Linked DNA regions of Homo sapiens: regions 1 and 2 are each reported to be linked to region 3. Evidence: microRNA targets listed by miRTarBase, many of them from high-throughput screens and not tested one by one. Region 3 holds a microRNA gene; each other region holds the end of a gene's coding sequence.
What was found. The annotated mature microRNA hsa-miR-9-5p reads UCUUUGGUUAUCUAGCUGUAUGA and lies in region 3 at 3,321-3,343, opposite strand. An mRNA with a match to its seed (bases 2 to 7 or 8) in the 3' UTR can be bound and repressed. Matches are read on the target gene's strand: a 7mer-m8 pairs with bases 2 to 8, a 7mer-A1 pairs with bases 2 to 7 and ends in A, and an 8mer does both.

Region 1: the mRNA of LRRTM1 is a reported target of hsa-miR-9-5p. The part of its 3' UTR that is shown has no 7-base or 8-base seed match.
Region 2: the mRNA of TESMIN is a reported target of hsa-miR-9-5p. The part of its 3' UTR that is shown has no 7-base or 8-base seed match.

The regions. Positions count from the first base shown.
Region 1 is chr2:80,297,884-80,302,951 of GRCh38, forward strand. LRRTM1 (leucine rich repeat transmembrane neuronal 1) reads right to left here. Exons shown (of 2, transcript NM_178839.5): 2 at 3,995-5,068. The coding sequence ends at 4,368. All of the region lies in intron 7 of CTNNA2 (catenin alpha 2), which reads left to right. Among named protein-coding and RNA genes, the nearest start is that of LRRTM1, 4.3 kb to the right of the region's middle.
Region 2 is chr11:68,703,927-68,708,994 of GRCh38, reverse strand. TESMIN (testis expressed metallothionein like protein) reads left to right here. Exons shown (of 10, transcript NM_004923.3): 10 at 495-1,555. The coding sequence ends at 687. Among named protein-coding and RNA genes, the nearest start is that of GAL, 22 kb to the right of the region's middle. RefSeq lists an enhancer at 1,518-2,276.
Region 3 is chr15:89,366,303-89,371,374 of GRCh38, reverse strand. MIR9-3 (microRNA 9-3) reads right to left here and starts at 3,358; the gene lies at 3,269-3,358. The region is part of intron 1 of MIR9-3HG (MIR9-3 host gene); the gene reads right to left. RefSeq lists enhancers at 1-445, 446-1,328, 3,138-3,751.

The sequences.
Region 1 (5,068 bases), not on the chromosome of region 3:
TGAATAAAAGTTTGATTATGAAGAAGAAAGTATTAGGATGATTAGTGCTAGAAGGTAGTTACATAATGGTCACCTGCCTGCGCGTGTATGGGTGTGTGTGTGTGGTTATATATGTGTGTGTGTGTGGTACTATGTGGTTTTATATATTATATATTATATATATATATACACACACACACATGTGTGCATATTTGTGTGTGTGCTGTTATATATACAGAGATAGATTGAGAGGTAGGAGTGTGTGTGTATATTTCAGAAGCACATTTAATGGTCATATTCTAGCTAATTCCTTTTTTTTGACATTCTAAACCTATCTCAAAATATATTTCAGAAGCACATTTAATGGTCATATTCTAGCTAATTCCTTTTTATTTGACATTCTGTCAATGGCAGACCCAAATCAGCCAACATCGCCACTCATCTAGAGGAGATAATTTATGTTTATTTTGACTACCCTGAAACATTATGACACTCTTGCTCCAAAACAGATATAATTTCTGGTTCTTTGATAATTTTCTCTGTGAGAGGGGTATGTGATGATGTTCCTTCTACCATCTCATGTGATCCATCAATGCCCTGTTCTACTGGGCCATGTCAGATAGACTAGGCATCAAACTTGCTGACAAGTCGACTAAAATAAGCCGGAAACACAAGTGGCCCCTAATCCTACCAGAGATCTGTGTGTACTTGCTTGGAAAACTTGGGAGGAATAACAAGTGGCATTTGCCCCTCTGATTACTTACATATACTCATAAATGTGTTGTTGATGCTAAATCATACCAAATGTCTGCCTTCTTGAAGGCAGAGAGAAAAGGTTGGGGGCTCTTCTACTTTGATGAGTTCAGAAGAATATTTTTAAATGGTTGAGAAAACTATTTCCTTTTACTGGAATAACCTTTCCTTTGCGATGGTAACTTTGTAGTCTTGGGAGTATAGGCTGCATTGTGGGTAGGTGGTCTCAACTATTAATATCAAGGCTAAGATCTGAGCATCAGGGACTGCCTATTTTTTCTGAGTGCAGCAGAGGACAGGTCTCATTTAACCTGCTTCCTCTGGTCCAACCTAAAAAACTACTAGGGCTAAGACTGGTGTGAGAGTGTCATTTGTCATGTGAAAAGACTTTTTTTCTATATAAATATTCGAAAAACCTCAATACCACTGCTGAACTTTAATCAGCTGGGAAGGTACTGCAAATGGAGGGTCAATCCATCACAATGCCCAGGACGAGACGTGAATTGTGGCCTTAAGTTCTTTTCAGATAGCACAGCATAATGAGATTAGCACCCTCTGTGGGAAGAATAAAAAAAAGGTGCTACACCTTTAAAAATTAGATTCTCTTTTAAATGCTTAGTAGTTTGCTTAGAGGGGTCAGAGCAAGTTTCTTGAAGCTTAAAGATTAATTAATTTGAGAAAGAAAAGATTTCAAGTGTTACAAAACCTTAGTTAAAACTACCACTTTCCCTTATTCCTGCCGTTTCCCCCCACCTCCCCCCACCAATCTCCAGAGCTAGAGGCACAGGGGCATGAAATGATGTGAGCTAAATTCCCGTTTGTGTAGACAACGTTTGCTTGCCTACAAAGACACACAACGCAGAAACATACAGACACACACACAAAGTAAGAACATAGCTTTCTATGGTCATCATTTGCTCTTAAGCTCCCAGATTGCAGATTCCTCTTTCCAATGGTTCTTCATGAAATGCGTATGGACTTAAGATCTTCTACATACATGATGTTTAATCATGGGCAGGGTGGGAGGAGTAGCATAAAACAAAGCACGATTATTCTCTCTCTGTCTTATGGCCACCTTGAAACAAGAAGAGTGAAAGATAAAAATGTCTTGGGGATAGGAGATAAACTACAGTTTCCAATATTCAGATTTCTAGAGGGTAGGAGGGGACTTGTGGTTCTGATGCTTGCCAGAAAGGTTTTGCTTCTGAAAGCTTTCCCTGTAAGCACACCCACACAGCTCTTTAATGCACCAAGCCAAAGCAGCTTTGGGCGCTGGATTCCTGTAGCCTTCCTATGAGATGGTTAAGTTCACGGAATCCAAGGAGCCCTCCTTCAGTTGCTACATTTTTTGTTTTCTAAAAAAGGTATGCCGTCTTCTAGAGGAGGTCGCTTTAGTAGGGTTTTAGGTAAGGCACATCCCTGAGAGAATCTTTTTCCTGCTACCCCTGCTCTTGGAGTGGTATGCTATTTAGAAAGGCAAACCCAAATGATTATGCTTAAATTCAAAACCCCCTCCTCAAAGTTATCAAACAAAGCACCTCTCTTCTAGAACACTAATAGTCTGAATGGGTGTCATGTGCATGATGTGTGTCATAATGTCATGTTTTAATTATAAATAAAGCAAGATGAAGTTTCCTGGCCAGGAAAAATGAGCTGGGGTGTTGGGGTGTGTGTGTGTGTGTGTGTGTGTGTGTGTGTGTGTGTGTGTGTGTGTGTGTAAGAAGCTGTCTCCCAGGGCTTAACATCTTAAAAGACATTTGCAAAATATTTCTCTTGAAAGAGACTCTTAGAAATACTATTTTTAGGCATACTGGTTTCTCCATAGGTAAAAGAGAAACCTACCACCAACCCTTAGCTTAAGGAAACCTTCTGGTGATACCATTCTGCATTTCAAAAAGCTGATTTTGCCTCCTAAGATTGGTAGCTGGAGACATTTGCATGTTGGGGGATGGTAGTGTGTGGTTCCCCATCCCCCCATTCCCTCTTCCTGCTATTTGGACTTCTCTCTCTCAAAAAAAAGGAAAAATAAAAACAGAAAGATGCAACTCTTTAGTGTCCGTTAGAGAGGGAAGAGAAAGACTTAGGGACATGGGCTACATTGGTTCAGCATCTGTCATCCATGACAGTTTATTTCAATCATACATTTGCTTAAATTGTCATCTGATGAAGGAGCCCTCCGTCCAATGCACACAGCCTTCCCCTTCCCTTCTCTGCACCCACCAACTGCCACTACCACCACCTCCTCACTCTTTAGTTCAATAGAAACTGAAATCTCAATGATGGACCTGGAAACCTATGAGGGGTGAGAAGGAGCAATCATCACTCTCAACACAGAAAAAAAAAAAAGGGAAAGCAAGCATTACACAAAAGGGCCATCTGAGAAGAGGCAGCTTTTCTGTCCTGGGTTAACAAATTATTCCCATCTCAGAAATATGCAAACACAGGATCAAATGAGTATCTTCTCCCACTCTCCCCACCCCATCACTGCTCTGTCACCTCTGCCCCTAAAGTCTCTTGCTACAAGTCATTACCCTGCAGGCATTCATCCTAAGGTAGGTTTTTCTCCTCATTCCCCATAGAAACTAGGAATGTGCTGTCACTGTTTGGGAGCCTAAGCTTGCTGCAGTCTTAGCAATGTGCTCCAGAAGCACAGCTTTCAGCCCTAAACATCGGGATTCTGCCTCCTTCCCCTCAGCCAGACCAAAGAGAGCAGTGAGCTGAGGGGCTCCCTTTAACAGGGGGTACAAGAAGGGCACAAATGCTACTAAGTCTGGTGAATCAAAGACTCAGGAGAATTAAGAACAGGTGGCATTTGGGGATGAGATTTTGAGGTGATTTGAAAGATGGTTACATTAAGTGCAAAAATGTTTCGTGTTCCTAGGAGAAACTGTCTGGCATTGCTTTTTAAAAACCATTTGCAATGCTCTCTGCTTTAAAGGCTGAGTAAGGGTGCCCAGTCCTCAGTCCACCTCTCAGTTGCCTGAAGGTGGTTAGATTGCACTGTCCCTGCCCCAGTAATATAAAGGGTCTTGCAGTTTTTCTTTTTCTAGTCCTTACACATGTGGAGTAAATTAACATAAATCATTAATCTGATAAGCTTTCTTTGCCCTTCTTTAAAATTTCAAATTGAATCTGACTACGTTGCTCCTGGATTTTCCTTCTGGCCCCTGGACAACTCCCTCCCCACCCACCAAGGAAATTTTAACTGTTGCTTTTCTTGTAACACAGGTAACAATTCATTTAGGTTACACCAGTCTGTAAAAACTGTAAATGCTATTTTATTTTAAACATTTTAGTTTACAAAAAAAAAAAAAATCAATGATTGGTACCTTTTTTACACTCTCAGATTCCTGAATATGGACAGATCTTCAAAGGGAGGAAGGAGTTCTCATATGAAATTTAAGATAGACTGTCCTGAAGGTTGTGGGGTGGGGTTTTTTGTTGTGTTTTAATTCGCTTTTGTTTTTAAGACACAATAAAGCTAAAATGTCAAGTCTCTGGGAGAGATCCCCTTAAAGTTTCAGTCAAGGAGCATATCAGAGCACAGACAAGGAGACCCCAGCCTGGTGCCCGCCGGCCCGTCCCGGCTGCCCAGGCGTATTTGGTAGCGCATGGGTTGAGAGCCACTGGGACAATCACACCTCGCATTCCCTCGCGGGCTGCTGGTGGCAGGTACACGAGCCATACTCGTTGATGATCACCAGGGCTCCCTCAATGTGGTTCGGTTTGTAATCAACGTAGTATTCCTGGGCAGACATGGCAGCCATCTGATGCATGGTCTGTTTCTGCTTTTGCTTCCTGCGCTGCGTGACAAAGCACTGTCTGAGCTGCCTGAGGCTGGCTGGGAAACACTTCCAGGACACGTAGAGCACCAGGACCACGATGAGGAAGGAGAAGATGAGGGCCATGGTGCCCGTGACCACCTTGTGGATCTGCACGGCGTTCTCGGCGTGCTCGCCGCCTGGAAGAGCCACGGTGGCAGGCTCGAATGTGCCGTCGTGCTGCCCCTCCCCGCCGTCCGCGAGCGTGGTGGCCGAGCTGGCAGGGGGCCCCAGATCACTGCGGTTGGTGACGGCCGAGAGCAGGTGGCCGCTGGTGGGCTCGGCCCCATCCTCGCACAGGTGGAAGGCGTACACGGCGTCCAGGACGTCCTCGCCCTGTGCGTACTCCGGGCTGGCGCACTGCAAGTTGCCATCGTAGCGCCCCTGGAAGTTGTTGAGCCACGAGGCTAGGGCACACACGTTGCGCCCGCAATCCCACAGGTTCCCGGCCAGGGTGATGCTTGTCAGGGACTTCCAAGAGTTGAGGATCCGGGGCTCGATGTAGGTGAGGCGGT
Region 2 (5,068 bases), not on the chromosome of region 3:
CAGATCATGAGGTCAGGAGATCGAGACCATCCTGGCCAACATGGCAAAACCCTGTCTCTACTAAAAATACAAAAATTAGCCAGGTGTGGTGGTGCATGCCTGTGATCCCAGCTACTCAGGAGGCTGAGGCAGGAGAATCACTTGAACCAGGGAGTTGGAGGTTGCAGTGAGCCGAGATCGTGCCATTGCACTCCAGCCTGGCAACAGAGCAGGACTCAGTATCAAAAAAAAAAAAAGGGTCTCACTTTGTTGCCCAGGCTGGTCTCAAACTCCTGGCTTCAGACCATCCTCCTGCCTTGGCCTCCCAAGGTGCTGGGATTACAGACCACTGTGCCCAGCCTAATAGTTTCCAGTATGAGGAAGACAACGTTAGATTTTAGTGGATGATGTTCTTTAAAATAGCATGGACAAGCAATGTTCTGTTGAATATAAATAGTACTGTAGGTAGAAATGGTGCACTGTTGAGCGGCCTTTAACTGCTCTGTTTCTGACAGGCGGCCTTCCTCATGCATCTCCTGGGAGGTGGTGGAGGCCACATGCGCCTGCCTGCTTGCTCAGGGAGAAGAGGCCGAGAAAGAACACTGCTCCAAGTGCCTGGCAGAGCAGATGATCCTGGAGGAATTTGGAAGGTGCTTATCACAGATTCTCCACACTGAGTTTAAATCTAAGGGATTGAAAATGGAGTAGAGTATAAAGTGTGAATGCATGTTGATTTTGTCTTAGTCTAGAAATCTCTAGTTTAGAAAGGATGTTTAGGGGAACATGAGGCTGGCTCTGCAGCAACAACCAGGCTCCCCTGCATCCCTGGGCCCAGGGAGTTTACTCAGAGCTCTCTGAAGATGTGGCAACCCATGCCCCCTTTTCTGAGGAGGTGCATGGCCTGAGCATTGTTTGTCTGGCCCAGAGGAGAGAGCTTGGGTTCCCATAGTCCTGGGAGAGTGTCTGCAGGGCGGCGGAGGGCAGAGCAGGGCAGGGGAGGGCACAGCAGGCCCTGCGAAGGGCAGAGCGGGGCAGGGGAGGGCAGAGCAGGCCCTGCGGAGAGCTCACTCTGGTCGACTCTTCCTCTCAGAGAATGTTGCTCTGGAGGCTGCTCTGCATGAAAACCCTAATGGTTTCTTGTTTGTTTTTCAAATTATTTAGAAATAAGTTCTCCGGATGGGCTGTTGTGATACCACTTAAAATCTCTAGAGAACTACTGAACACCTAAAGATTTTCTGTAGCGTAGATATTTCCCCAGAGGCACGCGAACTGTCAGTCTTTCCTAAGGCCCCCGGGAGACGCAGGCAATGGGGCCTCGCAGGCCAGGCTTGCACCAGCATGTCTTGAGTTAGAGGACTTAAAATTATCCAGTTTCTTCTGTGTTTCTACTTGAATTGTGGAAAAGCTCTATTATCCAATTAACTTCTCCATAATTATTGTTGTAATATTATTATTGTTTGTAAAACATGGTTCACATAACTAGCTTGTGGAAACCAGCAGGTAAAATGAATTCTTAAGTTGACGCTTTTGGTTCTGTTGTAAAGCAAAGATGAATAAAAATTTCCAATGTCTTCAATTGTTGTCATTAACTTAGTAACTGAAAATGTGTTCATCTGATGAGTACCCACCCTGAAATGTATTGAGAGAATATTCTTTCATGTTTCTGCATTCATTACTAGTGTTGGCCACTTAGAGGGTGTTCAGGAAACTCAAGTACAAATGCAGCAGAGACAGAAGTGTGGCTGCCGGGCCCAGGCACTGGGCACATAAGTGAGCAAGCAACCAGGGAGGAAGCTGTCTTTTGTGGAGCTGTCTGGAACAGTCTAGTTGCAAACACAGCCACAGGAAGCCACAGAGGAGAAAAGGAAGACTGAATTCTTCCCCTTTGCAATTCCCTTTGGACCCCTGGGATCCAGAGTCTGTGGCAGAAAACCAGAGGTAAAGACATGCATTGTGAGACGTGGAACCCTCAGCCAGCCGTACACCCCACTTGCTGTGTGTGCTTTCAGTCCTGTCAGCATCGCGGCGAACAGGGAGGCGCACTGCTGGGGGAGCCACCTGGCCTCCTTCACCCTTGGGAGCTGGAAGGTGACCTGGAAATGGGGACTTTGGGAGCTGCCTCTGGGGGGGCTGCCTCCATCCTGCTGTCCCTCTCGGCAACACTGCCAACAGCAAGATCTGCCAGCCACATGAGTACTGTTAAAGTTTCTAGTAGCTACATGTAAAACTTTGAAAAGGAGCAGGTAAAATTAGTTTTAATAATCTTTTATTTATCCCAATGTATCCAAAATACTATCGTTTCAATGTGTAATCAGAATGAAAATGATTGAGATTTCACATTCCTTTATGTGTACCCAATATTTGAAATGCAGGGTGTCTTGTACTCACAGCAGGTCTCAGTTGGCACCAGCCACACCTTAAGGGTTCGGGCGCCTCAGCACAGCCCTGGGGCACCGAGTGGAGGGAGGAAAAGGGAACAATGTCCTCCAGCATTCTCCTGAGGCAACGGCTGCCTAGGGAGATCCTGAACCAGGTGTGGCCCACCCGCGGAGCCCAGAGGAAGTGTGAGCAGGGAACTCAGTGTGGGGCTGGGGATACAGGCCCCCCACTTTGCACAGGAGCCTGCGCTGGCCAAGGATGCTCTGACTGTGGCCAGGTGTACTGAGCTAACGCCTGGAGGTGAGGGAAGAGCCAACCTGGGCAGGCACGAGCCCTGCAGGGTCTTCCGGCAGAGAAGAATTCACTGAGTAGGTGCCACTTGCAGGGAATCCCGTCTGAGAAGTGAAAGCCGAGATACAGACGTGCATAAAGCCACTATGCTGACCAGAGACAGTACAGAAGATGACTACAAAGCTAGAAAATCCCATCTCTTATGTGTTTGGCGGAGAGCCAGTGCTATTTTAAAACGATATACAAATTAACATATCATGTTCTTATTTGAGAGTGTAGCTGTGCAAATTTAACCATATCTTTTTTTTTTTTTTTTTTTTTTTGAGACGGAGTCTCACTCTGTTGCCCAGGCTGAAGTGCAATGGCGCGATCTCGGCTCACTGCAACCTCCGCCTTCTGGGTTCAAGTGATTCTCCTGCCTCAGCCTCCTGAGTAGCTGAGATTACAGGCGCGCACCACCACGCCCGGCTAATTTTTGTATTTTTAGTAGAGGTGGGGTTTCACCATGTTGGCCAGGCTGGTCTTGAACTCCTGATCTCAGGTGATCCGCCCCCCTGGGCCTCCCAAAGAGCTGGGATTACAGGCGTGAGCCACCGCGCCCAGCCTTAACCATATCTTTCTACTCTGTACCTACTAAATAACTCGGACCACCTTTGTGATTAAGGTTAGATTATCTGTTGGTTTTGGGTTTTTGTTTTGTTTATCCGAAAGAAAAAAAAACCTTGTTTTTTCATAGACACGGAGAAGAAATCATTGTTTAGAATGACACGCGCTGAAATCGCTCTTTCCTGTCAGTGAACACAGGCTGCGCACTGCACAGAAAGTCTGGCGGCCAGGGAGCATCCTTAGGAGAGAAGGTGCTGTTGGCGGCGGAAGGTCAGCAGAAGGCTTGGTGTATTTTTCATCTCGGCTTGGATGCTCCTATCCCTTTACAAACCTCTCACCAGTACCTGAAGTTCTGCCAGCACTGGTCCCCTTTCAGTGTGGGCGCGGTTTCAAACCATAATAAACAAGTTATCGTAAGGAGTCAGTTAAAATACTGTCTTAGGGAATTCAAAGGTTGAACCCTCATCCAAGATAAAATGATCAGAGCAGCCAGAGGATCCAGAGAGCAGGAGGGGGCGCAGAAGACGAAGCAGGGAGGAGGCCTCCCGTTCTGCAGGCGGCGCGCTCTTTAGGAAGGCACCGGGCACAGCTTTGTGCATGGGGCCGGCTGTGCGGTCTCCGTGCTGCACTCTCTCCCCAGGAGTCCTTAGCCTCAGAGGAGGGAGGAAGCACGACAGGAGGGATCACCGTGAGGCATCTTCCCCCAGCCCTGCCTCCATCCTGCTCCCAACCCCCGGCCCCCGGCAGAGACTGGAGAGCCACAGGGAGCACTGCCCGGCCCCAGCCACCGATAAAACTGGAATTGAAGACTGTCATTGCATGGATGTTCTCTTCATATATTTAAAAATGACTATCAGGAAAAAGTTTGAGCCTCCTAAAAATGGTAGCTGGTTTGTTTTTCAACAACAAACTTTAATAAAAACTTTAATGTTTGATATTTTAAATTTTGCCTTGACTTTCAGGAAATTCAAAAGTAAATCTATTCAATACCAGAAATCACATTAGCCCAGGTTTAGGATTAACTGTCCCTCTCTTTTTTCCATAAAGCTTTACTTTTTTAAACATGCTTTTTATTTGTACTATTACATACATCTTTTACTGTAAACCATTTCATATGTTTGTTGGAAATAGATGGACTATAGAAACATTATTACCGAATTATGAAGACAGAGTCTGCAGTGACAACCTTTTTAATGATGATTCCCTAGAAATATATATATTTTAATAGAGGCAGAGTCTCACTCTGTTGCCTATGCTGTAGTGCTGTGGTGCGATCATAGCTCACTGCAGCCTCAAACTCCTGGCTTCAAGCAATGCTCCCAGGTAGCTAGAACTACAGGCTCACACCATCATACTCAGCTAAGTTTCTGTATTTTTATTTTTTGTAGAGACAGGGTCTTGCTATATTGCCCAGGCCTCAAACTCCTAGCCTCAAATGATCTTCCCTCCTTGACCTCCTGAAGCACTGAGATTACAGGTGTGAGCCACCATGCTGGGTCTCTATTTATTTATTTTTTTTACTAGAGTATTTTTTAGGGTAGTTTTAGGTTCACAGCAAAACTGAGCAGAAAGTGCAGAGATTTCCCATATAATCCATGCCCCCCAACACCGCAGCCTCCCCACTACCAACATTCCTCACCAGAGCCGTCCTTTTGTTACAACTGATGAACCTACAGTGATACACCATCATCCAAAGTGATACACCACAAACCCAAAGCCCATGCTGACGTTAGGATTCCCTCTCGTTATTCCACATGCTATGGGTTTTGACAAATGTACAATGGCACATATCCAGGGTTACAGCACACAGAAC
Region 3 (5,072 bases):
TGAGTCCTAGGAGGCCTCCTGGCCAGGCTCCCTCCGCGCTCTGGTCCCATTTCCCGGGAGGTCCGGCCGCGGCCGGCAGAGAACTCTCCGGCCTGTGGAGATCCGGCCTCAGGCCGCGCCGCAGCCTCCTCTCGGCAGCGCATTTCATTGGCCCGGGCAGAGGCCCATGCAGTCCCACAGCGTTCGGAGTTGGGAGTTCGTGGACCAGAGAAAAGGAAGCCCCGGATGCCTCGCCCACCACGGTGGCTGTACTGATCGCTGCCCTGTCAGTGGCCTTCTGTGCGACCTTCCGTGAGCCACTGGGCCTTTTTACACCATTTCTAGGTGTAAAATGAAAGGAATGGGGTGAGAAGTATCCGAGATTCTCTAAGATTCTGGCTTCCAAGCTGCAGCAGATTCTCGGGATCTCCAACGCCTTTTTGGATGAAGAAAGAGTAGCACAAACCGGAGACAAAAATGAAGCCCAAACGTGGGGAGCCAGTGGCCAGAGGAGGCTTGGGGAAGGCCTTCCTGGGGCACAGGAATGGAGGAGACGAGGGACTGAGAAGGCCCCAGACCCGTCCGGCTACTCCAGGTCCAGGCAGGCCAGAAGACGTTGATGGGCCCAGGCACCAATTTTGAGTCTGTGCCTTGGGCTTTAAGTGTCCAAAGGGGATTCGAACATTGCTCTAGTAGGGGCAGGCATTCGTACCAGGAGGCCGAAATCGGATGGGTTGGCCTCTGGCCTCTGGCCTCTCTCCGAGGGCCGTTTAAGGAAGGTGTGGGATGGGCTCCTGGAGATTAGAACTGGCATGCTCATCGCCCTCCGCAGCCCTGCTGCCGCGATCTTTCTCTGAAGCGGGAGGTTTGCATCAACAGATTTTCGTAGAAAGCGGGAAAATGCCGCGTTGCCCTCCCGCACAGACTCCTCCTTCATCAGACCCTCAACTCGGGTTTCAGACCTGCCCAGATGGTATGGGACAGTGGTGTTTAACAACAACACTCATCTGAACTGTGTAGACACTGCTGGGAAGCTGCAAAGCCACCCTGGCAAGTGAAGGACTAGTTCTTGCAACACAGCAAACGGGTAGGGGTGGTGGGAGGGGAAGATCGAAGCCCGGGGCCCAGGGTTTGCCCACACCCGTTGGCCGGTGAGGGAGGAAGGCAGGGAGTGCAGGGCAAGGGGGCAGGAAGTGCTGCTCCGGTTTCCTCCGAAATGAGGTCACCATCAGCACACAGGCTCCCAGGTGCATTGGGAAGGGAGGGACGGCCCAAGGGATGCAGCCCATAGCCTCGTGAATCCCGAAACACTCTAGTCACCCTTCACCAGCCTCCTGTCAGAAAAAAAGGGAAACTGGCCTTTCAAAATGGAGGTGGGGTACAAAGGGATTCAGAAAACCTTCTGCCCATGATTATCTCTGAGGAGAACCGGGGACCAAAGTAGGAGGGCAGCTGACTTTCCCTGCCTGGTCTTTTGTGTGTATTTTTTATTTAATTTTACTGTGAATGCTAACACACTCACAGGGTTCACAATTCCAAAGGTATACAGTGAAAAGTCTCCCTCTACCATCCACCTCAGCCACACAGTTCTCCTCCCCAGAGCCAAGGGGTTTTCCTTTTGTACTGTTTGAATTTTCACCATTTACATATATACCCTATATTCAAAATAATTTTGTTAGGCAAAGAACAAAAAAGGTTTGCAGGAGTGAAGATGGAAAAAATATTTCTATTTTTACAAGAGGGCTGGGCAAAGGCTGGGAGAAGAGGGGCCGTGAAAATCACTAAGGGAGAGGCTCCAGGGAGTGAAGTGAGCCAAGATGTACGTAAGGTGGCCTGGGGTCCAGCTCTGCCTTCTGAGCTGTGTGACCCTTAGGGAGTCACTTCAGATCCCCAGATCTGTTTCCTCTCATGTAAAAGGGTGAGGGGATGGGGGTCAGGGCTGGGTGGTGGTGCCAGTTCCTTTCAGCCTGTCTATCATAGCACTCACATACCCATATACTTAGAAAGCCCCCCTACCAATCGGGGAGTCTGAGCCTACCTTTCTTCCTTTCTTCCCTGAAGCCGGGCAGGGTCCCTTCCTTGGTCTACAGCCACTCGCTGGGGAGCTTGGGAGGTTTCCCAAGCTACAGGGGCCCTGAGCTTCAGGACAAGCCAAGGCATCAGGGTGGAAAGTGACCTGAAGGCAGATGAGAAACTCGAGAGGGACCCTAGCACTGTGTGGGGCCGGGACCCCCACGCACTGAGCAGGGGCAAGCCCCACTCCCTGAGCCCAGTTAAGAGGGGCTGGGAGCCTGAGTGGCCGGGTGTGCTGCATTGGGTTGCCATGGGAACGAATTCAGATTTCCCCCAATTGCTTTTTTATTTGCTAGACATTGTAATACATCTTATGTCGTGACTTCTTGGGGCAGGGAGGAGGGGGAGCTCTGGGAGCTTGCCTGCACCTTAACCTCGCGGGAAGTTGGGGAGGCTTGGGCAGGAGCAGCCCGGTCGGGGCTGGCGTAGAGGTAGCGGGAGACTGAGCTCGGTTCCTCCCGCCCACCCGCCGGCTCTTGGTTTGTATGCAGGGCAGGGCCGACCCGTCGGGGAGGGAGGCCCCTGCCCTGGCCCCTTGCCATTGAGCGCACTCCCCGCCAGTTCTGCTCCGCTTCACGCTGCACACAGACCCCCCAACTGCACACAAAGGCAGCTGCCAGAGCCCGTGAAAAGTGATCAAATTATCAAGAACTTGACCTCACCGAGGGGCGAAGCTCCGGCAACCCCCCAGCCGTATGCTAATGGCGCTCAGGGGCTGACTCGTCGAATAATTCGATAAAGGCCGCATTGTTAGCGGCAGGGCAGCCCCCAGCCCACCCCATTCACTCCCTCCACCCACCCCCTACCGACCGCTGTCTCTCTCCCATCGCATTTGCATCCCAAAATCCCCGTCCACGGCTCCGGGAGCGGATTGTTCCAGCCTGATTTATGGGGTGAAGGCGAAGGCTGGCGCCTTCCCCTTCCAGCGACCCCTCTGCAACCCCAACCCCCTCCCTCTCCCCGGCCCGCTCCACTTTGGGGTTCCTGCTCCGGCGCTGGGGGATAGGGGTGGGGGACCAGGAAAGAGGAGGACTGGGGGAAAGCTGGCACTGCAAGTGTCCCCAGAGAGAGAGCCGAGGTCAGGTACCTGGTCGGGGCGCGGCCGCTCCGTCGAGCTGGAGTCCGCTGGGCCGGCGCTGGGCTCCTCTCGGCTCCTCTGGCTCTTGCGGGCCGGGCCGGGGCGGTCGGTGGGGCGGGCGCTCGCACGCAGAAGTTGTGAGAATCATTTCTACTTTCGGTTATCTAGCTTTATGACGGCTCTGTGGCACTCATACAGCTAGATAACCAAAGAGAGAAACGGGCCTCCCTTAGCCAGTGCCGCTGCCGCGCCGTGGGCTCCACGTGCTGCTGCCTGCCGAGCGCGGGAGCCTGAGCGGACGCCGTGCCCGGATCCTGGGGCGCACGCGGAGAGCCAGAGGGGATGGACAGACACACGCACACGCTGACTCCCGCCACCTAGGCCCGCAGCCCCCGCCCAGTTCCCTTCCTCCCTCGCCCTCCCGGCGCATTTCTCCCCTGCTCCCCGTTCCGTGCGTCCTGGCACCGGCGCTGCCGGCCTGCCTCGACGGCGTCCCGGGGCTCACGTAGGGCACCCGCGCGGAGCGCTTAGAGAGCCTCGAGCGCCCCGGCCGCCCCCAGCGCACTGGACCGCCGGCCCTCCTCTCGCAGGCTAATCGCCCCGCGGGGAAGTGACGTCAGTCCAGGGATCGGCCAATCACAGGCTCCCATTCAAATCCCAGCCCCCTTCCCGCGCTCCGCACCACCCAGCCTTACAATGGCCTCGGCGTTCACGGCTTCCCCGCCCCGAGGGCAAGGAAGCGCACCCTCTGCCCTCAGAAGCCTCAGGGCTGCGCACCGTCTGATCTTTCACCCAAACTCCTCCGTCTTCCTCCCAGGGCCCAGGGAGCCCAGTACCCACTGCGGACCATCAGAGTTTGGGAGACAAGAATGCTCGAGTGACAAGGTTTAGGGACGCGTGTGATAGGACGTGGCGATCTCCACAGGAGGGCCGAGAGCGCTCACGGAGAGGCCGAGAGCAGAAGCCATTTCACCTTTAACTTCTCTCTTCCTTTCCCCATGCCCAGCACTTGCAGTAGATCTAGCCCACGCGGCAGAGACCAGGGATTGGAGGAAGAATTAAGTGTCCCGGTGAGCGCAGGTCGGTGTCCCACCCATAACACCTGGCACTCAGAGGTTCCTCAGCTATGCTCCACTTGGGCGAGGCCCTGGCCTGGGCCCTGAGTACCAAGCTGCTAGGTCCCTTCTCTCTCTCGGTTCCTAGACACACTAGGAGTGTAAAACCGATTGTGCCAAGCACCTTGGAGAAGTCCTAGGCTCTCTCTTGGCTCCTGGTTAAATTCATATTTCACCAAAAATTAAAGCACAAAGCCATGCCTCCACTCTCCTTCTTCAGCTCTCAGCACACACCTGGCTACTCACTCCAAGTAGCCGCAACAGTGGAAAGGGACTGCCACCTTGGGTCTCCCGGAATCACCCCTAAACTGAGCTGGCAGCTGAATTGGTGGTACCATTGCAGCCTTCCAGATGTGAGTGGCCTATGGGTACCACTTCGTGCTCATGCCAGCCATCACCCCCTTCTTCCTTGCTGCTGTGGCTACCCTCCAGCCTTGAGCCCTATGATTCACCTCCGCCTGTCAGCCATCCCCAAGATGCAAAGGATTCAGTATGAAAAATGCAATATCTTTGCTCCTAGATACCCCCAGAAAAATCTTAAGCTCAACAGCTAGGGAGAGATTTTATGTGGGACTGGGCAAGTGGATTCCCAGATTCCAGCAGTCAATACACGGGAGTCACAGAGACTCTCACTGCTGCTGTCTACAGTGAGCACTGTGGGGTTAGGTGGAGGTACCCGTGCAGATTCATTTTAGTGGGGTCTGGGGCACTGGGCCACTCTGAGCCAGGTAAAACCCTTGCAGGATGGGTTGGAAAGAAGGGGCCAAAAGTGGATGGTTTGGAAAAGATTTCATGATTTTACTAAAAATCTCTTCCTTCCATACACT